Regions from separate parts of the Homo sapiens genome. Here regions 1, 2, 3, 4 and 5 are each linked to region 6. Evidence: fine-mapped expression QTL. A gene starts in region 6. Each other region holds a variant in brackets. All regions are shown on one strand. Distances are between the middles of the regions. Region 1 has its middle 27 kb from the start of ATP2C2. Region 2 overlaps ATP2C2 (ATPase secretory pathway Ca2+ transporting 2). Region 3 overlaps ATP2C2 (ATPase secretory pathway Ca2+ transporting 2). Region 4 overlaps MEAK7 (MTOR associated protein MEAK7). Region 5 overlaps ATP2C2 (ATPase secretory pathway Ca2+ transporting 2). Region 6 holds the start of ATP2C2 (ATPase secretory pathway Ca2+ transporting 2).

The links. PIP is the estimated chance that this variant, and not a neighbour inherited with it, causes the effect.
Region 1: its variant is fine-mapped to the expression of ATP2C2 in esophagus mucosa (GTEx, PIP 0.96).
Region 2: its variant is fine-mapped to the expression of ATP2C2 in lung (TOPMed, PIP 0.96).
Region 3: its variant is fine-mapped to the expression of ATP2C2 in lung (TOPMed, PIP above 0.99).
Region 4: its variant is fine-mapped to the expression of ATP2C2 in prefrontal cortex (CommonMind, PIP 0.95).
Region 5: its variant is fine-mapped to the expression of ATP2C2 in cerebral cortex (GTEx, PIP above 0.99). The same link has a PIP of 0.9 or more in anterior cingulate cortex.

The regions. Positions count from the first base shown.
Region 1 is chr16:84,339,260-84,343,359 of GRCh38, forward strand. No RefSeq gene overlaps it. Among named protein-coding and RNA genes, the nearest start is that of ATP2C2, 27 kb to the right of the region's middle. The variant A/G (reference allele first, on the strand shown) is at 1,724.
Region 2 is chr16:84,462,220-84,466,320 of GRCh38, forward strand. ATP2C2 (ATPase secretory pathway Ca2+ transporting 2) reads left to right here. Exons shown (of 27, transcript NM_014861.4): 27 at 1,395-1,968. The coding sequence ends at 1,513. It overlaps ATP2C2-AS1 (ATP2C2 antisense RNA 1), which reads right to left. Exons shown (of 3, transcript NR_146503.1): 2 at 1-780. Among named protein-coding and RNA genes, the nearest start is that of ATP2C2-AS1, 3.1 kb to the right of the region's middle. The variant G/A (reference allele first, on the strand shown) is at 1,755.
Region 3 is chr16:84,394,178-84,398,282 of GRCh38, forward strand. All of the region lies in intron 1 of ATP2C2 (ATPase secretory pathway Ca2+ transporting 2), which reads left to right. Among named protein-coding and RNA genes, the nearest start is that of ATP2C2, 28 kb to the left of the region's middle. The variant A/T (reference allele first, on the strand shown) is at 2,077.
Region 4 is chr16:84,490,508-84,494,593 of GRCh38, forward strand. The region is part of intron 3 of MEAK7 (MTOR associated protein MEAK7); the gene reads right to left. Among named protein-coding and RNA genes, the nearest start is that of MEAK7, 12 kb to the right of the region's middle. The variant C/T (reference allele first, on the strand shown) is at 2,282.
Region 5 is chr16:84,401,975-84,406,079 of GRCh38, forward strand. It overlaps ATP2C2 (ATPase secretory pathway Ca2+ transporting 2), which reads left to right. Exons shown (of 27, transcript NM_014861.4): 3 at 3,154-3,270. Among named protein-coding and RNA genes, the nearest start is that of ATP2C2, 35 kb to the left of the region's middle. The variant T/C (reference allele first, on the strand shown) is at 1,755.
Region 6 is chr16:84,366,993-84,370,992 of GRCh38, forward strand. ATP2C2 (ATPase secretory pathway Ca2+ transporting 2) reads left to right here and starts at 1,546. Exons shown (of 27, transcript NM_014861.4): 1 at 1,546-1,722. The coding sequence starts at 1,624.

The sequences.
Region 1 (4,100 bases), 28 kb before region 6:
AACAGCCTAGAAACCGCCCCTGCTGCCTATAGTCTAGTGGGACACAGTACATGGAGAAGCAGGGATTTGAACCATGGCCTGCTGATTCCCAGGGGCTCTCCCCTTCATCATGCTGCCCCTGGGATGGCTAAAGAGCCTCCCTTCCCTCCTCCCTGGCCTTTCCTGCTTCCTCCCTGCACGGGAGGAGAGACACAGATGGATCAGTGATCGCAGGCAGATGGTGTGTGCCTGGCCCGTCTGGTCTGGGAAGCAGCTGTATGTTTTTGGCTTTGAACCTAGTACAGTTTCCCCTTGAGATCCTCCCTTGGACCTGACTGTTTTGGAGACAGATGACAGTGTCTCTCTCCTGAGCTGAAATCTGAGCAGACACCCGGCTGCCTCAGGTTGTTGGAGTGCTCTGGACTGGAGCTGAGTTCCATGGTGGCCCTACTGGTCCTTAGCTGCGTATCCCTGGACAAAGAGCTTAGCCACCCTGATCCTCAGTTTCCACTGCTTTGAAACGGGGGGTAACATCTGCCGTGCCTTCCATAGGACCAGATGAGATGAGGGTGTGAAAACGGTCAGGAAACTTACAAGGCTGGGAGGCAAAGAAACACAGAAGGGTCACTGAAGACCCCAGCCAGGGACTCAAAGGCGCTGAGAGGCTGGATGACCACTGCACTTTGGTGACGATGACAGAAACCCAGCGGGAACCAGTCGGGGCAGATGGGGCCACGTGATGAGCCGTGTGAAGGAGTGGCGAGGGGCTGTGGCCCTGGGCTGATGGGGTTCAAGACTTGGCTCTGAAAGAAGAACAAATTTGTTCCCTTTTATTGCCATTAATTGTCAAAGTCAAATTGTATTTTATACTAAGGTCATTTGGCTGGATTTTTTTCTTTAAAGAATTTTTTTAAAAAAACTTCTTGCTTTGAAATTCTGATAAATTTACAAGACATGCAAAGAAATATACAGGGAGGTCCTGGTCCCTCCACCCCTCCTCCCCCATGGTAACATCTCACACGGTTACGACATGACATCAAAACCGGGAAGGTGACGCTGGCAATCTCCATGGAGCATACTCATCTGTGTCCCACTCTGCACGGGTGTGTGTGTGCGTGCGTGTGTGTGTGTCTTTGCACGTGTGTGTAGCTCTGTGATCTTGCTGCATGAGCAACCATCACCATCAAAAGATCCTGACTGCACTGTCACCTCCTCCTCACTAGGTGGTTTTATTACCCACGTGTGGATGGAATATGAGGAAGACGGGAGTATGTGGCAATCTCCCCACGGCCTCACAGCTGGAAACTGGCGGGGCAGGTTGTTGGGACATCAGAGCCCCACCTCCCGTTCTCCCACTCTTCCAGGAACAGAAGGAGGCCAGCCCCACTTCTCTGAACCCCTGTCTGGAGTTTTCTCTCTTGCAGCACAAGTTCTCCTGTATTGAGGAAGCAATTTCTCAGTTGCGGCCACCTCTCTAACCACCTGGGGACGGTTCCACAGCCACAGGGAGCAGGGGTGGCCAGAGGCTGAGAGGACTCTGTCCCTCCTGACAGCAAACAGGGTCTCAAAGCATGGCTGCGGGATGGGCCCCTGGGTGCTTTGGGTCCCCACTGCAAGACGGGGCACCGGGACGCTGGAAACTAGTGGGCAAGCCTGTGGGCCCCTCCAGGCCTGCTGGAGACAAAGCACCTCCCGCCATCCAAGGACCCTGAAAGCAGCTTTTTCCGTAAGGGCAAACTTAACT[A/G]AATCATCCCTTTGGGCCGGGCATGATGGCTCATGCCTATAATCCCAGCACTTTGGGAGAATGAGGTGGGAGGATTGCTTGAGCCCAGGAGTTCAAGGCCAGCCTGGGCAACAAAGTGAGACTCTGTCTCTTAAAAAAAAGAAAAAAAAATCAGGCATGGTGGTGCACAACTTCAGGTCCCAGCACAGGAGGCTGAGGTGAGAGGATCGCTTGAGCCCAGGAGGTCGAGGCTGCAGTGAGCCATGATTGTGCCACTGCACTCCAGCCTGGATGCCAAAGCAAGACCCTGTCTCAGAAAAATAATAATAATAATAATAATAATAATCCCTTTGGACTTTGGTTATTCGGATGTGGCCACATTCCCTCCCAGGTTGCTTTCCATCTGAGTTGCCAGTATAAGCTCGCACCCTGAGCCTTTTTTCTAGAACATTCTCACAGATATCAGTAAGTTGGTCCAAAGAGAAGGCAGGTGGGTTCATTTCAGGTGACTGTCTTTCAGGACAAACCTGATCTTACAGCCCCCACAGAGGTTCTTCCCGTGCAGACACCTGGAGTAGGAGCCTGAGTGAAAAGGAGCCCAGCCCCCAAAACATCCTTCCTGCAGGCCCCTGTGAGCTGCCTGAAGTTCCACCATTACAGAACCATCTTTTGTTGACAGCTGCGAGGCCTGTTAGACTGTGGACTTCTCTGGGAGAGGCTGCTGTAATCTAAGCCGTTAGGGAATCCCGCCCTTCAGTTTACGTTCTGGAGTGAAGCCACACAGGTGCGTCGCTGATCATGGCCACCGAGGTAAGAGGTAGGAGAGGGTCATACTGGGATCTGGGCCTCCAGTCGAGATGAGGAGTCAGGGCGGCCTTCCCAGAGGAGGCAACGTTTGAGCAAAGTTTCTGAGTATGAGTTTCTGTGGCTGCTGTTAACAAATGCCCACACACCAAGTGGTTTGAAACAACAGTCATGCATTCACACTGTTCTGGAGGCCAGAAAGCCAAAACCAAGGTGTTGACACGGCTGGGTCATTCCGGAGGCTCTAAGGGAGAATCCAACCCGTGCCTCTCTCCGGGCTTCGAGGGAGAATCTGCCCGGCGCCTCTCTCCCGGCTTCCGATGGCAGCCGGCCACTTCAGTACTCCCGGCCTTGAGGATGTGCCTCTCCCATCTCTGCAGCGTCTTCCCGTGGCCTTTGCCTCTGTCTCCGTGTCCCAGATTTCCCTCTGATTTCTCTTTGAAGGACACCTGTCATTGGATTTAGGGCCCTCTTAAGTCCAGGATAATCTCCTCTTGAGACCTTTAACTTCATCCCATCTGCAAAGTCCCTATTTCCAAATGAGGTCACATCCGCAGGTTCTGGGGGTTAGGACATGGGCATTCTGGGGAGACGTCATTGAACCCCCAGCAGGGAGCAAGCGGCTAGGTCAGGAGAGGGAAGAGGGGTAAAGGCATTCCAGGCAGAGGGAAGAACATTGAAAAAGGCATGGAGAAGAGAAGTTCAAGGACCTCCAAGCAGGTGGGCATGGCCAGGGAAAGGGGGCACCCAAGAGTGAGAGGATGTGGGGCTAGAAAGCTAAGCAGGTGCCAGCCGGTTCACACGCTGAGTTTGAACTTGACCCTGTTGACCTAAAGGAAAAAAAAAAAACAACGGAGGAAAAAATGACTTAATTACTTAGTTAAATTAAGTAGAGAGTTTATTTGGGCCAAGCTTGAGGATTTCAACCTGAGAGTATGGACTCAAGCTGCTCTGAATATAAAGTCCACTCAGCAGCAGTTACAAGTAGGTTTTTAAAGGAAAAAAGGAAAGGCAGTTCCCAAGCTGTTTACCAAGAATTTATATGAAAATAATAGAAACTATTGCTTGGCTAGGCATTGTTCTTTGTGTCACAAATTCCCAGAACATGAAGATAGCGGGTGAGGCAGCAAGTCAGGAACAAAATGCCTTTAACTACCCCTAGGCCTGGGGGTGACGGCATGACTGAGGTCCCACACTCTCGTCTTTCCGAGCCTGATGAATTCTGCACATCCCAGGAAGCTCAGACTCCAAGCCATTTCTTTTTTCTCACCCCTGAAAATAATGTGGAGATGCTGAAAGTTTTACCTGGGTCATTATGTCACCGACTCTCCCCACACCCCTGAGAGGTGGGAATTATGGCCCCATTCACAAATGGAGACTGAGGCCCAGGGAGGTGAAGTCACTTGCCCAAGAGCGGATCCTTGGAGAAATGGCAGGGGTGGGATTGGAGCTCAGGCCTCATCTAACTGCATGAGTGGGAAGATGGAGGCAGCAGGGTTCTGGGTGTCTGTGGCAGGCAGAGGTGGGTTATCCAGGAGAAAGGAAGGAAGCAAGGCTTTTGGGACTGGGTGCCAGGCCCACCGTCCCATCACGC
Region 2 (4,101 bases), 95 kb after region 6:
TCAGTGCGGGAAAGCAGAGCTCACCAGGGGCCGGCTCTGTCTTCAGGGCCCTTCTGTCCTCACAGGAAGGGACTCTAACGTGGGTGATGTGACGGATGCACAGAAACCCCTAGGAAGAGGCCTGTCACTCAAGAGTAGTAGGGTCTGGGGCCCAAGGGGCACCGGCATCCCAGGCGTCGGGCTGGAGGCTCAGAGCACGTGCAGGGAGGAAGGAGGGAGCAAGGCCTGTACTCAGCCTGGGAGGTACCCCAGCTGGGGAGCCTGGACTTGACCCTGGGGCCAGTAATGTGACTTAGAGATCTGGTCACCTGAAGGCAGGGAGCTGGGCTGTCTTCCAGTTTTGGCTGAAAGGGACATGATTCAGTCACCGTGGTTTTCCAAGGGCACACGCCCTGGTGTGGAGCCCAGGGGACTCCCCGACATTGTCAGCCAAGCGAGTGTGGCACCTTTCTCTGAAGCTGCGGTTATGGCAGGCATGGGGCAAGGGGAGGGAGCCAGGGACAAGTCATCGACCCCACCCTTTTCCCCAGTGTGCTGAGAGCCAACCCCAACCCGGAATAGAGGACGAGGGAGGCCAGTGAGGCAGCCCCCATGGGCCCACCGCCTCCCCGCCGGCAGGGCCCAGAGTGGGTCATGGCTCAGATCTGGAGGGTCATGGGATTATGCATCAGACCTGAGGCTGCAGTGACAACGGTCCTATGACCTCCAGGCAAGACTGGGATGGTCAACTCTGCCTTGTCCTCCAAAAAGCAGTGTCAGTGTGGGTCACCAGTGAATGCCCTGTAGGAACAGACAAGAGGACCCCCCAAAACACTCTGCTCACTGGCTGTTTCCACCCGCCGGGAAGGAAGTCGGCTTCCCACGCCTGAAGGGGTTGTGCTTGGGCAGCCCGTACATCAGGAATCATCAACAGGGAGCCAGGGATGGTTCCTCAAAACAGCATGTGACAGGAGCAGAGGGAGACGCTGGGAATTCATCCCAGGGAACATGTCGCTGGGAATTCATCCCAGGGAACATGTCGGGGTGCACTGGACAGGGAGCCCAGACTGGTCACTCAGGACATTTGCAAGCAGCAGGGCACTGGGACAGCTGCTGTAGGGAAAGGAAACTCATTCCCCTTCCAGCCCGAGTCCATAACATGCTCCCAGCTGCCTGCCAGACCCACCCTGTGCTCTGGAGCTGCCTGGTGTTTGCCTGGAACCACAGGCAGGCCCTTCTGGAACTGCAGCATTTTGGATTCTGGGTTAGGAAGATCTCCCTGCCTTCAGGGGAATGAAAAGGGCTGGTCCTCCGCACCTCTCACTTTATCAGGAGGACTGGCAGGGAAGGCGCTTCCTGCCGGCGCAACAGAGCTGCAGCCCGTCCTGAATCTTTTCTGTTTTCTCCCTTGGCAGATTTGCTGTTTTTAACTGGATTGGCCTCATCCGTCTTCATTTTGTCAGAGCTCCTCAAACTATGTGAAAAATACTGTTGCAGCCCCAAGAGAGTCCAGATGCACCCTGAAGATGTGTAGTGGACCGCACTCCGCGGCACCTTCCCTAATCATCTCGATCTGGTTGTGACTGTGGCCCCTGCCGTGTCTCCTCGTCAGGGGAGACTTTTAGGAGGCCGCAGCCTTCCATCACCGGATCAGTTTTTCCTCTTAGGAAAGCTGCAGGAACCTCGTGGGCTCCAGGGACCCAGGCCCACATCCATCCAGCGTTCCCGCTGGCTGTGGGACAGACAGGGAGGGGCCTGTACAGAAACACCACACT[G/A]TTTATTAAATCACAATGATTTTTATTAACCATGTCTAACTACGTATCTGTGCCACAGCTTGCAGTGAGGCAGGCCACTCGTGGCAGATACAAGGGGCTCCTGAGAGGCAGTGGGTAGGATGGTCACACTCTGCCCATTGCCCTCCTGGAGGCCCCATTTCCTCATCATAAAATGAGGGACTTTTAAATAAAGTGCTATGCCGGGGGATAATTATTTTGATGTGTTTACCTAGGGTTTTTCATACAAGGGGCCAGGTTGGAAACCCACAGCCATGTGTTAATGGCCACGTGGGGTGAGCAGCAATCCATCATGAATGGCCTACAGGAAGGCCTCGGCTTTTGGACATAAAGAGTAGGGCTGGGCATGGTGGCTCACGCCTGTAATCCCAGCACTTTGCAAGGCCAAGGCAGGCAGATCACTTGAGGCCAGCCTGGCCAACACAGCAAAACCCTGTCTGTCTCTACTAAAAGTTTAAAAAAAAAAAAAAAAACAGTTGCCAGGCGTGATGATGCACACCTGTTAATCCCAGCTACTCGGGAGGCTGAGGCAGGAGAATGGCTTGAGTCCAGGAGGTGGAGATTGTACCACTGCACTGCAGCATGGGCAACAAAGCAAGAGTCTCTCTCAGAAAGTGGCCCTTCTCTCCGGAACCAGGAACTGTAGTATCTCCTGCTGCCTGCAGACAAGCTTGATTTCCCACTGCCCCAAAGACTTCCAAAAACCGATCTGCTCTTCCACGTGACAGATGGCAGAGGAGAGAGGTCTCCATGCTGTTCTTCTGCCTGAAGCCACGCCAGAACCACCAAAGGGAACCAGAAGGGGAACTCCGTCCCCATCTCTCAGGAAATAAGGCCAGAGCTAGAACCCCCCATTTACTAGTCAGGCCTCACTAGAGAAACAGAACCAACAGGATGGAGGGAGATGCAGAGATTTGTTTTAAGGAACTGGCTCATAGGATGTTGGGGGCTGGCAAGTCTAACATCTTGAGGGCAGGCCAGCATCCTGGAGACCCAGGGAAGAGCTGGGGATGCAGGCTGGAGGCAGAATTTCCTCCTCCTCAAGGGAGTTCAGCCTTTTCCTCTTATAGTCCTCAACTGATCGGATGAGGCCCACTCACGTTATGAAGGATAAACTGTTTGTTTTACTTCAAGTCTACGGGCTTACATGTTAGTTACACAGCGCCATCTAGACCAGTGTTTGTTTGACGAAAATCAACTTGGCCTGGCCAAGTTGTCAGATAAAAGTACCCGTTGCACCCAGCCACGGTAGCTATGAAAAGGGCTACCAGGGGTGGTAACAGCTGGGTCAGACGAAGATAAGGAAGGTCAGAGTGGACCCCTGCCAGGGTTCCAGGCAGAGTCCAAAGTCCTCCATAGTAGGATTCACAGCCTGGGAAGAAGCCCCTCTCTGGCTACAACCTGTGACACCAGGGCCACAGGAGGAGATGCAGCGATGGGCCATTCCTAGTGAGACACAGACACAGGGCTGGCTGGAGAAGAAACCTTTTGAGCTGTGGGGCTGTCTTCCTAGAAGCTGCCAACCCCTGGAACCACTAAGAGGTCAAGGCTGAAGTGTGCCACTTCCACAGTCTGCTAAGGAGTGCCTCCCCCTGAGTCAGGGACAATTCTTGCTCTACTTTTCAGGATCCTTGGGCACACTGCTGGCCCGAGACATTTACTTCCCATTTAAAATTAAGTAATCAAAATACCAGGGTCGATTACTCTGAACTCTTGCTTATGTAAACTTTAGGGATAAAACTGTAGTAAGACACAAAATGCTAACAATAAAATATAAATTAGACTACATTAAAACTAAGACCTTCTTTTCATTAAGGACACAGTAGACTTGAACACCACCATTAAGCAACTTAGCTTGATTTACACTTGTAGAACACCCCATTCACGAGTAGCATAGAAACAGTCACCAAAATAAAGAGCAGAAATCAAACGAAAAAGCAAAAATAGAGGAAAATCAATCAAAACCTAGTTTTTCGAAGAGATCAATAAAACTATCAGTCTTGCAATAAGCTTATCAAAGAAAAAAGGGAAGAGAAATGACCAATGTCAGGAATGAAAAAGTATATCACCACAAACCCTTCAAGATATTCCAACAATAATAATAAATAATACTATGTACATCTTTATGTACCTAAATTCAATCAATTGGATGAAATAAACCAATTGCTTGAAAACCAAAAACTACCAAAACTCACTGAAGATTAAATAGATAAGCTGAAGTTGAAACCCTTCCAAAAAAGGCAGTTTCTGAAGCCAGATGATTTCACTGGTGAATTTTACTAAACTTGTAAAGAAATGGCAATTCGATACACTGAATTCCAAAAATAAA
Region 3 (4,105 bases), 27 kb after region 6:
TGCCTCAAAAACGAAAAACAAAATTCTTATTTTATTGAGGTGAAATTCACATAACAAAATCAACCATCTCACAGTAAACATTGTAATGGGATCTAGTACACTCACAATGTCGTGTGACCACCACTTCTATTCAGTTCTGAAACATTTGAAAGAAACCCTGTACCCATTAGCAGTTTCTCCCCATTCCCCCTTCCCCAGTCCCAGTCTGCTTTCTGCTCCTACGAATTTGCCTGTCCCGGGCCTTTCCTATGAGTGGACTCACATACCGTGTGGCCTTTTGTGTCTGGCTTCTTCCGCTTAGTGTGATGTCTTCCAGGTTCATCTGTGTTGTAGCAAGTGTGTTTCCCAGGGCTATGGTCACCGAGTACCAAAAATGTGGTGGCTTAAATTTAAATGTATTGTCTCACAGTTCTAGAAGCCAGAAGTCAAAACTCAAGGAGTCAGGAGGGCTGTGCTCTCTCTGGAGGCTCCAGGGGAGGATCTGTTCCACGCTTCTCTTCAAGCTTCCATCATGGCCAGCAATCCCCAGCATTCATTGACCGATGGACACGTCACTCCAGCCTCTGCCTCCATCATCACAGGGTTTTCTCCTGTGTCTCCACATGGACTTCCCTGTGTGCATGTTTATCTCTGCAAAATTCTCCTTTTTGCAAGAACATCGCTCATATTTGACCTCATCTGACCTTGATCATTTCTGTAAAGATGCCCTCCAGATAAAGTCACATTCTGGTGTACCAGGTGTTAGGCTTTCAAAGAATGGTTTTGCAGAGGCCACAGTTTAACAACATTCACGTGCGTCAGTATTGCATTCCTGTTTGAGGCTGAGTTGATGCTCCACTGTCTGGATGGACCACATTTTGCTTCTCCATAATCCGTGGATGGGCATCGGGCAGTGTCTGACTTTTGGGTCTCGTGAACTGTGCTGCTGTGAGCAGAGTCCCTGTTTCCAGTACCCTTGGTTACAGAGCTGGGAGTGTGTAGGTGGCTTTTACTCACAGAGGGAAGTCGGAGGCTGGGTCCTCTCTCCTTTGGGCTCTGGACTCTGCCCCTGCAGTCACAAAACACAGGGGAGTGAGGGAGGTCTCTGCATCCAACCCCCTCTCCCCTCCAGTGTCACTGCAGCATGGCACCCTGTCACCCCATGACTTCCTCAATCCACCTAGCTCATTCCCCAGGGACATGTGGGTGGACAGCCCTGGGCCTTCAGATGTCCAGAGCACGTGACAAAGGTTGGGGGCACATGCTAGTCCTGCCCTCAAAGGCAGGGGAATTGGTGCCTTTGATCTTTTTTTTTTTTTTGAGACAGAGTCTCACTCTGTTGCCCAGGCTGGAGTGCAGTGGCATGATCTTGGCTCATTGCAACCTCCGCCTTCCAGGTTCAAGCAATTCTCCCTGACTCTGGCTCATTGCAACCTCCGCCTTCCAGGTTCAAGCAATTCTCCCTGACTCAGCCTCCAGAGTCGCTGAGATTACAGATGCCTGCCACCATGCCTGGCTAATTTTTGTATTTTTACAAAATACCATGTTGGCCAGGCTGGTCTCGAACTCCTGACTTTAGATGATCTGCCTGCCTCAGCTTCCCAAAGTGCTGGGATTATAGGTATGAGCCACTGTGTCTGGCCCTTTTCTTCTGGATTTTTATTGTGGTAAAATATACATAACATAAAATTCACCATTTTAACCATTTTTAAGGGTATGGCTCTCTGGCATTAAGTATATTCCCATTGTTATGCAACCATCACCAATATTTGCCTCCAAAACTCTCATCTTTCCCAAAGAGACTCTGTAGTCATTAAACACTAACTCCCCAGCCCGGTTACCTCTGCTCTCCTTTCTGTCTCTGTGAGTTTGACTATTTTAGGGACCTCCTGTAACTGGAGTCCTATAGGATTTGTCCTTTCGGGTCTGGCTTATTTCACCAGGCATAACATCTTCAAGGTTCATCCATGTTGTAGCATGTGTGGGTTTTGGGCAGTCACATTGAAGGTAATTGGGCTCTTATCCTGAGAGCACTGGAATCTCTGCAAGTGTTTTCAAGCATCGGGCGTGTGTGTGTGTGTGTGTGAGATGGGATTT[A/T]TGTGTTTCGAGCCAGGTGCAGTGGCTCACGCCTGTAATCTCAGCACTTTTGGAGGCTGAGGCAGGCAGATCACCTGAGGTCAGAAATTTGAGACCAGCCTGGCCAACCTGGTGAAAACCCGTCTCTACTAAAAATACAAAAACAAATTAGTGAGGCGTGGCGGTGCGTGCCTGTAGTCCCAGCTACTGGGGAGGGTGAGGCAGGAGACTCGCTTGAACCCGGGAGGAGGAGGTTGTAGTGAGCCGAGGTCGCACCACTGCACTCCAGCCTGGGTGACAGAGTGAGGCTCTATCTCAAAAAAAAAAAAAAAAAAAAAAAGGAAAAGTGAATTCGGTGTAGTGAGTCACAAATGGCAAGGCTGAGGGCAGCTGAGTGAGTGTGGGGGATGGGGGGAGTGCCCAGCCTGCCTCCACCTGTGGTGTGCGCAAGAATCAAGCACTTTATTTGGTACGACGGGAGCAGATCTTGAGAATGGGGGGAAAAGTCTTGTGCAATCCACATTTTTCTTTGAAGTAACTCTACAAAGAATGCAATGTTGACTTAAGGAGGGCTCCCAATGGATGGCTAAGCCTGCTTAAAGATCTGCGTAATCGCTGCTGTGCTCCTGGGCACTGGGCATGAGTGAGAAGCAGCCGCATGAAACCGAGGTGGGTAGCACAGCTTTTCTAAGCAAATAGGCATTTGGGAGGAGATGGTTTGGGGTTGGGGAGGGCGGCTGTCAAGAAGGAAGAGTGGGATTTGCAATCTCTATTACAGCTAAAGGAGGAAGTTACTCAATACCTCTCCTGCTTCCTTTTTCCCAGTTTCCAGTAACCTGGTGGAAAAGGAAAAGATGATTATCACATCCTGGGTATCAGGATGCTAGGAATGGTTTTGCAAAAATACCTCACACTTTTCCGCTTCTGAGGTCTCCTTTGTATTAGCAAAGCCTCCCGAAGCCTCCAGGTGTTTCACGTGGCTTCTTTCCAGGCCCGCAGGTCTCAACACAGAGTGCTGGGACTTCCAGAACTTGGTTGTGTTTCCCCTCCCCTTTTCTTTGGTTATTTAAAATGTCCCATAGAACCAGGCTGTGATACCACCTATCATCAGTAGGAGGCACTCTCTGCAATATGGTGCATACTTGATGGAGAATCCTGGAAGTTCGAGGTTCAGGATTCTACATATGTATATTGTTGCCCTACTCTGTCCACTTACAAGTTTCAATTCTGTAAAATAAGTTCGCTCAGCCTGGGCAACATAGGGAGACCCTGTCCCTACAAAATATTAAAAAATTAGCCAGGCACAATAGCATGCACCTGTGGTCCTGCTATTCAGGAGGCTGAAGCAGGAGGATCACCTGAGCCTGGGAGGTTGAGGCTGCAGTGAGCTATGATTGCACCACTGCACTCCAGCCTGGGTGACAAAAAAAAAAAAAAAAAACTTGCTTAAAAATAGATGCATCAGTATTAGCCAACAACTAACAACTGGAACCCAGATATTCATCAACAGGAGAACAAATACAATGTGATCTACTCATACAGTGGAATACTAAGCTGCTGTGAAAATTAGCGTACTGTTGCTACATGCATTCTCACTTGTATAAATCTCACTAACAATGTTGAGTGAAAGAAATCAGACAAGAAAGCATGTATGAGTGTATACTGCATGGCACCATTTCCATAAAGTTCAAACCCTGGCCAACCTAATCTATGAGGATTGAAACCATGACAGCAGTTACCCCTCAGGTAGGTAGGTTGGCCAAGGGAGCATCAGGGGACCAGTCATATCTGTTTCTTAATTTGGGGGCTGGTTATAAGGGTTAGTTTGTGAGCTGTACACATATGCACACTGTGTGTGTGTGTTTTATGCTTTAAAAAAAACACATGTGGCCGGGCGCAGTGGCTCCACCTTTAATCCCAGCACTTTGGGAGGCCGAGGCAAGCGGATCACCTGAGGTCAGGAGTTTGAGACCAACCTGGCCAACATGGTGAAACCTCGTCTCTACTAAAAATACCAAAAAAATTTAGTGGGGTGTGGTGATGCGTACCT
Region 4 (4,086 bases), 120 kb after region 6:
ATCAAAATCCTTTCTGGTTTGATATTTGTGTTACTTTTGAAATACCAGTCATTTTTGTCCCAGGTAAAATACGGTAGTAAAAGATTTAAAATGATTTTTTTAAAGAGCTCAATGGTTAAAGTCAGCTTAATTAAAAGCTAATCAAGATGTGTGTGTGTGTGTGTGTGTGTGTGTGTGTGTGTGTGTGTATTTAAAGGGACATAATGCCTTTTTGTCTCTCCTAGGGTCTTGTTTTTAGAAAAAAGAAGATTTATTTCCTTCTCAATCAACTGAATTTTTTTCTCCATTTGCTTCTGCGTGTCTCTCCTTCCTCTTGCTACCCTCCGCTGTATGAAGGACCTAAAATAATGTCTAAGAGTCTGGGATTCCTTAAAGAAAACAGAGAAGGTGCCACACTCGTTTCTGAGAGAAATTTGTTTCTTTACAGAACCCCAAAGTTATAAACAGACCAGTTCCTCTCAGCTCTTAAGCTGCTTTTCTACTGTGTTACCTGATTTTTGTCTAAAAAAGTTATTACTACACAGCTACTCTTTAATGAAACCAAAAGTTGGTTCATTGAAAAGATCAACAAAAATATGAAGAATCTTTAGCTACACTGACAGAAAAAAGGGAGACAATTCAAATTATTTAAATCAAAAACAGAAGTAGGGGGCTGGGCGTGGTGGCTCACGCCTGTAATCCCTCCACTTTGGGAGGCCAAGGCGAGTGGATTACTTGAGGTCAGGAGTTCGAGACCAGTCTGGCCAACGTGGTGAAACTGTATCTCTAAAAATACAAAAATTAACTTTGGGAGGCCAAGGTGGGCAGATCATTTGAGGTTAGGAGGTCGCGACCAGCCTGGCCAACATGATGAGACCCCCGTCTCTACTAAAAATACAAAAATTAACCAGGTATGGTGACACACACCTGTAATCCTACCTACTTGGGATGCTGAGGCAGGAGAATCGCTTGAGCCTGGGAGGCAGAGGTTGTAGTGAGCTGAGGTTGTGCCACTGCACTCCAGACTGGGCAACGGAGCGAGACCCTGTCTTAAAAAAAAAAAAAAAAACGTCTGGGCACGGTGACTCACGCCTATAATCCCAGCACTTTGGGAGGCCGAGGCAGGTGGATCACGAGGTCAGGAGATCAAGGCCATACTGGCTAACATGGTGAAACCCCATCTCTACTAAAAGTACAAAAAATTACCTGGGCGTGGTGGCGTGCACCTGTAGTCCCAGCCACTTGGGAAGCTAAGGCAGGAGAATGACGTGAACCCAGGAGGCGGAGCTTGCAGTGACTGAGATCGCGCCACTGCACTCCAGCCTCGGTGAAGGCGCAAGACTCCGTCTCAAAAAAAAAAAAAAGAAAAGAAAAAAGAAAACAGATTTAAATTTTTTTAAATTAAGGTTATCATATCCATGTAACATTTTGTATTGTTTTTAAAGTCCTTTTGCTGTTAAGTTACAGGGCTGTGATTCCTAGGGCTAAAAGAGACTTGAATCCTGCTAAATCTTCAACACTGAAAACAATTAAAGCCTCATTTTGAGACCCAGGAAAAGATGGCAATCAAACTGTGTTCACGAGACACAGGGCCTGAAATTTAAAATATTTAACCCCTCTAGGCCCAGGGACTATTGTGGAAGAGGTGGATGTATGAGATTGTAAGGGCCGATTTTGAGAGAGAAAATTAGTTCAGAGGTTCTCTGTAAATTAAATATTAATATCAAACATACACTGATCCAACACCAGCATCTGGGTCCTTGTGTCAGATTAACAAGGTTTTCTTGGAGCATAACCCACCTTTTCATTTAAAGAATTATAAAAGGTTATAAAAAGGTTTATACAAATTACATCTTATGGTCAAGATGATTAAAATTTAATAGATTTGTTTATAAGACTTCACAGAGATTTAAGTGGCCTCATACTGTCTTTATTAGGGCTTATTGTTTGGGAAATTAAGTCTCCTCTCTCAAAAAAATAAAGGTTTTTACCCTTTTTTTCAAAACCTTTGAGTTAGCACTTTGGCTAAATGACTTATTTTACAATGACCTGTGATCTTATTTTGTGATATCAAGTGTTTTATTTTATTTATTTATTTATTTATTTATTTTTGGAGATGAAGTCTGACTCTGTCACCCAGGCTAGAGTGCAGTGGCACAATCTTGGCTCACTGCAACCTCCACCTCTCGAGTTCAAGCGATTCTCCTGCCTTGGCCTCCCGAGTAGCTGGGACTACAGGTGTGTGCCACCACGCCTGGCCAATTTTTGTATTTTTGGTAGAGACAGGGTTTCACCATGTTAG[C/T]GAGGCTGGTCTTGAACTCTTGACCTCAGATAATCCACCCACCTTGGCCTCCCAAAGTGCTGGCATTACAGGCGTCAGCCACTACGCCCAGCCTATATCAAGTGTTTTAAACTTCTGATATTTGACAAACTTTCCAGAATCAAATTCAAAATTCAGTCCTTTTGACCTCAATTATTGTTTTGATATTAGGTCCCTTGAGCTCCAAGGGAGACATATTGGGCTTACTTGGTATAATACAATCATACAGGAAGCACTGTCAAATATGAAATGGTGTTTAACCATCTTTGGACCACATTTATGTAAGTGTGTTATTAGTATGTGTTCCAAAATTCTATGAGATTCCTGTGATTCTGATGTGTCTTAGTATATGTTATCAGTAGTAATTACTATTATGTAAAGTTGTTGTATGCCAGAGAAGTACCCAAATTTCCTTGTCAATTGTGTCTTTAACCATGGCTGTTCTAAGACTTTTGACATCCACAATTGTTTTACTTTGATCCTTTTATAGGGCAGTTTATAGTCAGCTATAGAACTCTGAAGAGTACTCTTAAATATCGGTTCCGATAACTTCAGAGATTGTGCTGTTGGAATAGAAAGGAAAACTTCTAGGACTCATAGGGGGCTGACGTATTCATGAGGATTGCCGATCCAATATCAAGCAAGCAAGAAGTTAATTGCGTGGACCGAACTAACAGATGACCGAAATAATCTTTTATGACATTTTGTTTACAACATTAGCTGTTTTTTTTCCAGAGTCAAGAAAACTTTCTCTTTTAAGCTATTTACAGCTTTTAACAATTAAAATATACTCTAGTGAGCAAAATTTAAAACATAATCCCTTTCTGTCTACCTAATTTCTCTAAAATTTGGAAACTATTTGTGAGTATTCTTAATTTATGGCAATATAATTATTTGCATACATTCAATAAGAATCTGTTTTCTTTTATAACAGGACATAATTGGAAACACTGGTTATTTCATGAAGGCTTTGACTGGAACAGCATTTTCAGATTACCTTGAGAAAATGAAGCTGACCTGTAGAGCTGATAAAAGCCACTGGACAAACTGGCCTCACACTGTCCTTTACAGGGTCCTGATCTGTAAGTAAAGGATGTCACTTTCTGACAGGCCCAAATACTCCAAGTTTTCTTGGGACCTCAAAGAGAGAGGAATTCACCCAAGTCACATGGGTATCTACAGGCACAGATAAATTCTTGGCTAGGCTTGGAGCTTTTAGAAAGGTCTAATCTAAAAAAATGAAATAAAATAAAATAAAATAAATAAAAATGTCTAATCTCAGACTCCTTAAGGAAAAGTTCTAGCAAAGATAATTCAAAGAGAGTCAGTGTCTATATGGCAAATTATCACTGTTGCTGCACTTTATGCAAAATAATCAAGCTAAGTATAATTAGACTACAACTTATTTTACAAATAAGTTGGTCCTACTATGATTTTGTCTTTAATGAAAGTGGGGAACTGAAGAGAGAAAAATGTTTCAAAATAAACCATAGTACACTGGTTATTGGATTCTAGCTTTGACCAGTGTCAATTTTTATTATTTTCTACAATTTGGACTGAACCCTAGAATTTTTTCCTGGCTACAAGTCTTTAAAATAACATTTCAATCTTTCTCCTTCCTTCTATTCCTTTTTTTCCCCCCATTTTTCTGATTTGAAATCATTAAAAAATAAGCTGTGCTCTTCTTAAAGCTCTGAGAACTAAAGCTAGACAACTTAAACTCTGGAGTAACAGCGACCTATTTATATACAGAACCATTTTCGTACCTGCCTGCTGATATATGGACT
Region 5 (4,105 bases), 35 kb after region 6:
TTCCATTTTTCTGTGTCTTCTTCAGTTTCTTGCATCAATGTTTTATAGTTTTCATTGTAGAGATCTTTTACTTCTTTAAGTTAATTCCTAGATATTTAATTTGCAGCTGTGGTAAATGGGATTACTTAATTGATTTCTTTTGCAGATTGCTTTCTCTTAGCATATAGCAATGCTACTGATCTTTATCATTTGAGTTTGTATCCTCTAACTTTACTGATTTTGTTTATGAGTTCTAATAGCTTTAGGTGGAGTCTTTAGGTTTTTTCAGATATAAGATCATATCATCTGCAAACAAGAATAATTTGACTTCTTCCTTTCCAATTTGGATGCCCTTTATTTTTTACTCTTGTCTGATTGCTCTAGCTAGAACTTACAGTATTCTGTTGAATAGTAGTGGTAAAAGTGGGTATCCTACGGGAAAAGCTTTCAGTTTTTCATCATTCAATATGACACTAGCCCTGGGTCTGTCATATATGGCTTTTATTACATTGAGACATGTTCCTTCTATACCTAGTTTTTTTAGGGTTTTTATTATGAAGAGATGTTGAATTCTGTCACGTTTTTTCAGCATTAATTGAAATGATCATATGGTTTTTGTCTTTCATTCTGTTGATGTGTCACATTAATTTGTGTATGGTGAACCATCCTTGCACCCTTGGGATAAATTCCTTTTGGTCATGATGAATTTTCATTTTAATGTGTTATTGCATTCAATTTGCTTGTATTTTGCTGAGGATTTTTGCATCAATAGTCATCAGTGATATTGGCCAGTAGTTTTCTTTTTTAAATGTGTCTTTGTCTGGTTTTGGTATCAGGGTAATACTGGCCTCGTAGAATGAAAGTATTCCCTACTCATCTGTTTTTTGGAATTATTTAGTAGGATTGGTATCGCTTCTTCGAGTGTTTGGTAGAATTCAGCAGTGAAGCCACTGGGTCCTGGGCTTTTCCTAACCGGAAGACTTTTTATTATGGCTTTGATCTTATTACTTGTTATTGGTCTATTCAGCTTTTGGATTTCTTCATGGTTCCATCTTGGTAGGTTCTGTGTGTCTAGGAATTTATCCATTTCTTCTATATTTTCCAATTTATTGGCATATAGTTGCTCCTGGTAGCCACTAATGGCCCTTTGACTTTCTGTGATATAATTTGTGAAGTTTCCTTTTTCATTTCTGTTTGTATTTATTTGGTTCTTCTCTCTTTTTTTCTTAGCCTGGCTAAAGGTTTGTCAGTTTTGTTTACCTTTAAAAAAAAATACTCTTGTTTCTTAAGACAGGCCTATTTAAAAAAATGTCTGATATGTGGTAAATACACAACATAAAATTTACCATCTTAACCTTGTTATTTTTTCCAAGACATGGTCTCATTCTGTTGCCCAGGCTCGAGTCCAGTGCTGCAATCAAGGGCCAGTGCAGCCTCCACCTCCTGGGCTTAAGCAATCGTCCTGCCTCAGCCTCCTGAGTAGCTGAGACTACAGGAGTCTGCCACCACAATGGGCTAATTTTTAAAATTTTTTTGTAGAGCCAAGATCATGCTATATTGCCCAGACTAGCCTTGAACTCCTGGGTTCAAGCAATCTCCCCACCTCAACCTCCTGAAGTTTTGGGATTACAGGTATGAGTCACTGTGCCTGGCCTTAACCATTTTGAAGTGTACATTGTAGTTGCATTAAGTATAGTCACACTGTTGCACAACCATCGCCATTCTCTATCTCCAGAATTCTTTTTTTTTTTCTTGAGATGGAGTTTCCTTCTTGT[T/C]GCCCAGGCTGGAGTGCAATGGCGCGATCTCAGCTCACTGCAACCTCCGCCTCCCAGCTTCAAGCGATTCTCCTGCCTCAGCCTCCTGAGTGGCTGGGATTACAGGCACATGCCACCACGCCCGGCTAATTCTTGTATTTTTAGTAGAGACGGGCTTTTGCCATGTTGACAAGGCTGCTCTCGAACTCCCGACCTCAGGTGATCTGCCTGCCTTGGCCTCCCAAAGCGCTGGGATTACAAGCCTGAGCCACCAAGCCCTACCAGTTTATTATAAAGGCAAAGGATACCGATGAAGAGACGCATAGGGCAGGTAATGGGGGAAGGGGCGCAGGGCTTCCATGCCCAATGCTGCTATGAACATGGTTGTTCAAACATCTCCCTGGATGCCACTCTCCAGGAATATCCCCACGTTCAGGTACGTGAAAACTCACTGAATCCTATCTTTGGGTTTTTAGGGAAGCTTCATGACATCATTCCTTCCCCCAGATTATAGGGTGGGACCCTCTCATGGGAGGGTCTTAAGACCCACAGTCAGCAAAGCGGGTTACATTAGCATCTCCAGTATTCTTTTCATCTTGTAAAACTGAATCTGTCTCCATTAAACACTCACTCCCCATTCCCTCTCCCTCCAGCCTCTGACACCCACCATTCTACTTTCTGTCTCTATGAATTTGACTAGTCTATGTAATTCATATGTGGAATCAACAGAATTTGTCTTTTTGTGACTGGTTTATTTCACTTAACTTCATCCTCAAGGTTCAACTTAAAGGTGTATCCATGTTGTAGCACGTGTCAGCATTTTCTTTCGTTCTCAGGCTAAATAGTATTTCATTGTGTGTGTACACCATGTTTCATGCATTCATTCATCCCTTGAAAGATTGGTGGGTTGTTTCCTCCTTTTTGCTTTTGTGAACAGTGCTACGAACATGGTTGTACAAACATCTCTTGGAGCCCCACTAGCAGTTCCTTTGGGTATATACCCCAAAGTGGAATTGCTGGATCTGGTAGCTCCCTTTTTAATTTTTTGAGGAATCGCCACACAGTTTCCATAACAGCTGCACCATTTTACATTCCCAAGACCTTTTTTTTTTTTTTTTTTTTAAGAAGAAAAGATGTGTTTCTGCATTTCTGGAAGTCTATGCTGCATTTCCATTTGTTGAAATTTAAGACCAGAGTCGTCTTTTCTGCTGTAATTATAATGGTCACTGGCTTGTGCCTTTTCCTCCTCTCTCTGCCCCATCTGCACGGGGTCTTTGAACAAGTCCCAGCACCTTGGTGGACAAGCCTGTGTCCCTGGCCCATCATGGAAGCCGCTGCCTTTCAGAGTGGGAGTCTGTACCCTGTTGCCTCATTCCTTGCTGCGCCCATGAGTGAGCTTGTGCCTGACCTCTCCTTCCAGGTGGACTTACACACTGGGCTGTCGGAGTTCTCGGTGACGCAGCGCCGGCTGGCCCATGGCTGGAATGAGTTTGTTGCTGACAACAGCGAACCTGTGTGGAAGAAATACCTGGATCAGGTAGGACCAGAGGTGTCATTCTTTGCATTAACATGCATAAGCCAGCGAGGGTGGGGCAGCCATTCCATCTTTCAATGTTGATGGAAGGCATCCTTGGACAGCTCCCGCCCCTTTCACGCTGCCCCAGCCAGCCTGAGCATCAGTCATGAGCAAATCACCAACTCCCAGGCAACCGCGATCAGGAAAAACAGTGATCACTTTCGTAGACAGTTGAGCAGGCCCCGGGCCCCACGCTATATGAGTAAGTGAATAAGTAAGCATGCGCTTACTAATCCTCCTCCTAATCCCGCCTTTGCACATGAGGAAGGAGAAGTGCAGAGGTTGAAAGATTTCCCCAGAGTTGCCAGGTTTAGCAAATAACAATATAGGATGCCCTGTTAAATTTCAATTTCAGGCTGGGCGTGGTGGCTCGTGCCTGTAATCCAAGCACTTTGGGCGGCTGAAGCGGGTGGATCACTTGAGCCCAGGAGTTCAAGACCAGCCCGGCCAACATGGCGAAACCCCGTCTCTTCTAAAAATATAAAAATTAGCCGGATGTGGTAGTGGATGCCTGTAATCCCAGCTACTGAGGAGGCTGAGGTGGGAGGATTGTTGGAACCCAGGAGGTGGAGGCTGCAGTGAACTGAGATTGTGCCACTGTGCTCCAGCCTGGACAACAGAGTGAGACCTTGTCTCCACAACAACAACAAAACCAAAGTGAATTTCAGATAGATAAACAAGAAGCAATTTCTAGTATAAGTGTGTCCCAATACAGTGGACGTGCTTATACTAAAAACAAAAAGTTCCTTGTTTTTCTGAAATTTAGATTTTACTGGGTGTCCTACTGTAACCTGAG
Region 6 (4,000 bases):
CAAGCACTTCTGGTTTCTCTACGTCTTCCCCACAGCTTTGTAAAAAGTCTGTTTCTCAAACTCTCCTCAAATTACTATTTCCTACTGGGACCCTGACTCCTACGGGTAGGTAGTGACATCCCCATTTTATGGATGAGTAAACTGAGGTGGAGAGAGGTGAAGAAAATTGCCCAAGGTCGGAAAGGAACATTCCTGGGATTCAAATCTGGACTCACTCACATCAGAGGTTTGCTGTTACCATTATTCCTGCACCTTTGTTGAAACTGGGGAGTGGGGCCAGGCTGATACCGTAGCCTTTGTTTCCTTGAAAGAGGAAGATGCAGGAGATACAAGAAGGGGCACTGGAACTGCCCTGCAGGTTTTCGTGGCCTGGAGTCAACCCTCGGGAGCAATTGAGGTAGGTGGCAAATATTTGCTCAAAAGGGGTGGCTGAATTTCGTGGACAAATGCAGAGGGCACCTCCTGTAGCCCGTGAGTAACTTCCCTGTAGAGATGAGGAAGCCAGCGGAAAGGCGGGTGGCACGGACTTCCCCAGAGCTCCCCCTCTGCTAAGTGGTGGGTCTAGTTACGGATCTAGTCCTACCTGAAGCCAAAGAAAGCCCTGGAACTTCAAAGCACCCACTTGGCTGCTGGCAACTGTCTACACTGCGTATGGACTCACATACTTTGGGAGCCATTTGAGCCCAGCACCTTCTGATGATGAAGAGGAGGAGGATGGTGTCATGGGGACACCAGCACATTCTCTACTCCAAGCCCTGCTCGAGACCTTCCTGTACAGCACTGTCCGCTGGGGCCTCTCCATGTCACTGTGAAGGAGGCGCTATCGTGGTGGCCATTCTGCAGAGCAGTAAACCAAGGCGCTAAAAATATAAGAAACCTGCTCAGGTCCCACGACGAGCAAGAGCGGCGCTCATCCTGCAGACGAGGACAGGGGCCCTGACCATCCGAGACCATGCAGGCGCCAAAGGCAGCAGGGCTCTCAGTCGCTCCTGTTCCTGGACTCACTCCCAGGGCCCTGGAGGTGGGGGTCTTAGCCTTCTGCTGCTCCCCGCTCAATGACAGGCTAGGTTGCCGAGGCTCAGAAAGGCCACGTGACCCGTCCAGAGTGCACAGCCGCAGGTGTGAGTCTGACTGAGCTCCAGCCACCTCGCTCCCGGCGCCTTAGAGCCGCCCACCCTGGGTTCCTCAAGAGGATCACCTGGGGCTCGTTAAAAACCCAGCTCCCGGCGGCTCCAAACCGTGACTGGGCAGGGAGGGGTCTGGGAATCCGGATTTTAAACCAGCATTTGCTCCTCCACCTCCCCCACTCCAGGTGATTCTTAGGATCTGTAAGTTTGGGAAACAGCCCAAGCCCTGAGGCGACGCAGCCTCTCCCTGGGCCTTTCATGGCCAGCCGGCGCTGTCCCCAGAGCCCCTGGGGTCCCAGGCGAGCTCGCGGGGCGGGGCCGGGTGAGCCGGCACCTCCCTGTGCGCAGCCCCGCCCCAGGGGCGGGGCCTCACCTGCCGCGGGCAGGTAGACAGCTACCTGGTAACCGGGTCCGGCCCAGGAGGCTTGGGCGCGCGCAGCCATCCCGGGCCTCGCCGGGGACCTAGGGACGCAGGCAACGCCTGCGCCCGCTCACCATGGTCGAGGGACGCGTCTCCGAGTTCCTGAAGAAACTCGGCTTCTCGGGCGGGGGCCGCCAGTACCAGGCGCTGGAGAAGGACGAAGAGGAAGCCTTGGTGAGTCCCCGCGACTCCGCGCCGGGCGTGCGACCCGACCCCCCATCCCCTCCGTCGTAACCGTCCCCGGCCCGAGACCCCGCGTTCGCGCTGCGATCCGCGAACTCGCCCTCCTCCCCTGGCTCTGGAAAGAAGCTGTCCTCACAGCAACCGCGCTCTCATCTGCGCTCTGGCGCGGGGAGCTCAGCATGGAACCCTCACGTGAACCCATTTTGTGGTTGAGAAACTGAGGCCGAGAGTGGTTAAGTATATTCCCTAAGGGGCACGGAGCTAGGAAGTGACCTGGCTGGGAACTTAACCTAGGTTTCTCTGACTCCAGAGAATTAAAATTCCTGGGTCTCCAGACTTGGGCTGCTTTATGGATTTTTAAAACTTAAATTGGAAAATAAAATTAGAGGGATGCAAAAAACAAAAGATTGCTGAAATGTTGTAGCAATAATAGAAAGCAAAGTTGGAGCTGAGGGACCTCCCAGCCTCACTTCCTACAGTCAGGTACTTTTAGAAAGTCACTCAGAGCTGTATGCCTGCTTTGCAACCTTCAGGGACCCTCTGGGATAAAGCAGCAGGGTGCCAGGGCAGGGCGGTTCATGAGGGAACGAAGTGGCAAAGCTGTCAAATAAAGCCCCTCCTGTTCCTTGGATTCTTGGAAGCCAGGGGTGAAGCCAGGCTTGAGGGTGACCCAACACCCTTCTTTTTAGCTTCGCAAACAGAACTCGTTGCATGCTTTAAGGTCAGGGGGGCACTGAATTTCTGCAGAAGCGTTTCTCTGCACGCCAGAGGGTCGTTGCACTTTTTTTTTTTTCATTTACGCTTAAGCAGTCGTTCAAAAGTAACATTTCTGAACGAGTCCCCTGGGTTGCTAATTAGAAATATGACTTGGCGATGGCCTTTTGACCAGTGAAAGGAAACTTCAAAGGTAAACTTACCTTTTAATTAAAAAAAGAAATTAGCTGAAAAAATATTTGACTTAAAATTTTATTTTTTTCTCCCAAAGAATACTAATGGTCAAAACATTTTGTTTGTGAGATTAAGTATTCGTGCTTTTTTAAAAATAGTGTTTTGTGCTTTTTTAAAAATAGTGTTTTATACATCCCTGTTGATGTAAGAATTCTGGTCTTAGGGTGGTAGGCCACAGGACCACGTAACTAGCAGTTTTTGAGCAATCTCGATTTTTCTGAAGTGGCATGTTAATATTGATAGGATATAGAGTTCAATTAATTGGCTGTGATCCATTTCTCTGCTTCTGCGATACATTCTGCTAAAGGAGTTTGAAGTTTATTTGCCATCACAGGTTGCCTTTCCTATGTTGCCATTCCTGTTTTTTCCTTTCCATCTTTTGATTCTTGCATCAGGCCAGGTATTTTTCAAACTCTCCTGGTGTGTAGTTGGTTACCATCAGGTTTCACAGGATGTCCAGGAATGCAGGTGCATGGATGATGTAACCTCAAGGGAGATGCTGGGAGAGTTTGATCTCTGTGCCAGGTGGACTCGTCCCTCCAAAGCTTTGCAGGAGAGTTCTCAGAGGTCTGACAGGTGTTCAGCCGGTCTGTCAGTGTGCTCTCCCACCTGGCTGTGGACCGGGGTGCTCTCAGCAGCATCCTGAGGCCCTGGGTGCGTGATGATGGGCAGTGTGCAGCGCCAGGAGGCGGGTGATACCAGCACTGACACCAAAGGCCAGCTGAGAAAGAAGCCATGCTGTCTCCAGAGGCAGCCTTGTGCAAACCCAGGAAATGTGCAAACCCAGGAAATGGCAATGAAGATCGATGGGAAGTGTGAGGAGGGAGGGAGGTGGGGAGGCCGGGTGGCTGGGCGAGGCACTCACTTCCTGCCAGGTTGGCTCAGACCTGAACACCTCCTTTGCTGTCATACTCATGTCCTCTCGTTGGAACTCCTTTCTCCCAGGGTTTGGAAAGGAGGCGATGTGTGTTGAGGTGATCACTTCTACAATAGTTGGAATTGTCTTTTTTTTTTTTTGCGTTATTTCATACTAGTTTATTTAGGGGTTCCATTTTCACTCCTCAATAGAACCGTCTTTTATGAGCACTAATTACATGCCACATCCAGGATGCCTGTAGGAGGCCTCTAAGCCCTCCCCTCCCCCAGCCACTTTGACCAGTTACCCCAGTTCTAATAGTGATTGTTACTGAGAACTTGCTGTGTCTTCTCTTGGGCCTCTTACCTCCAAGGTAAATTTTACTCTCGTCATGTGATCAATGAGGATGTGAGGCTCCTAGTGGGGCCACGTTTGTTTGCTCAGTGAGCATTTCCTGACAGCCAG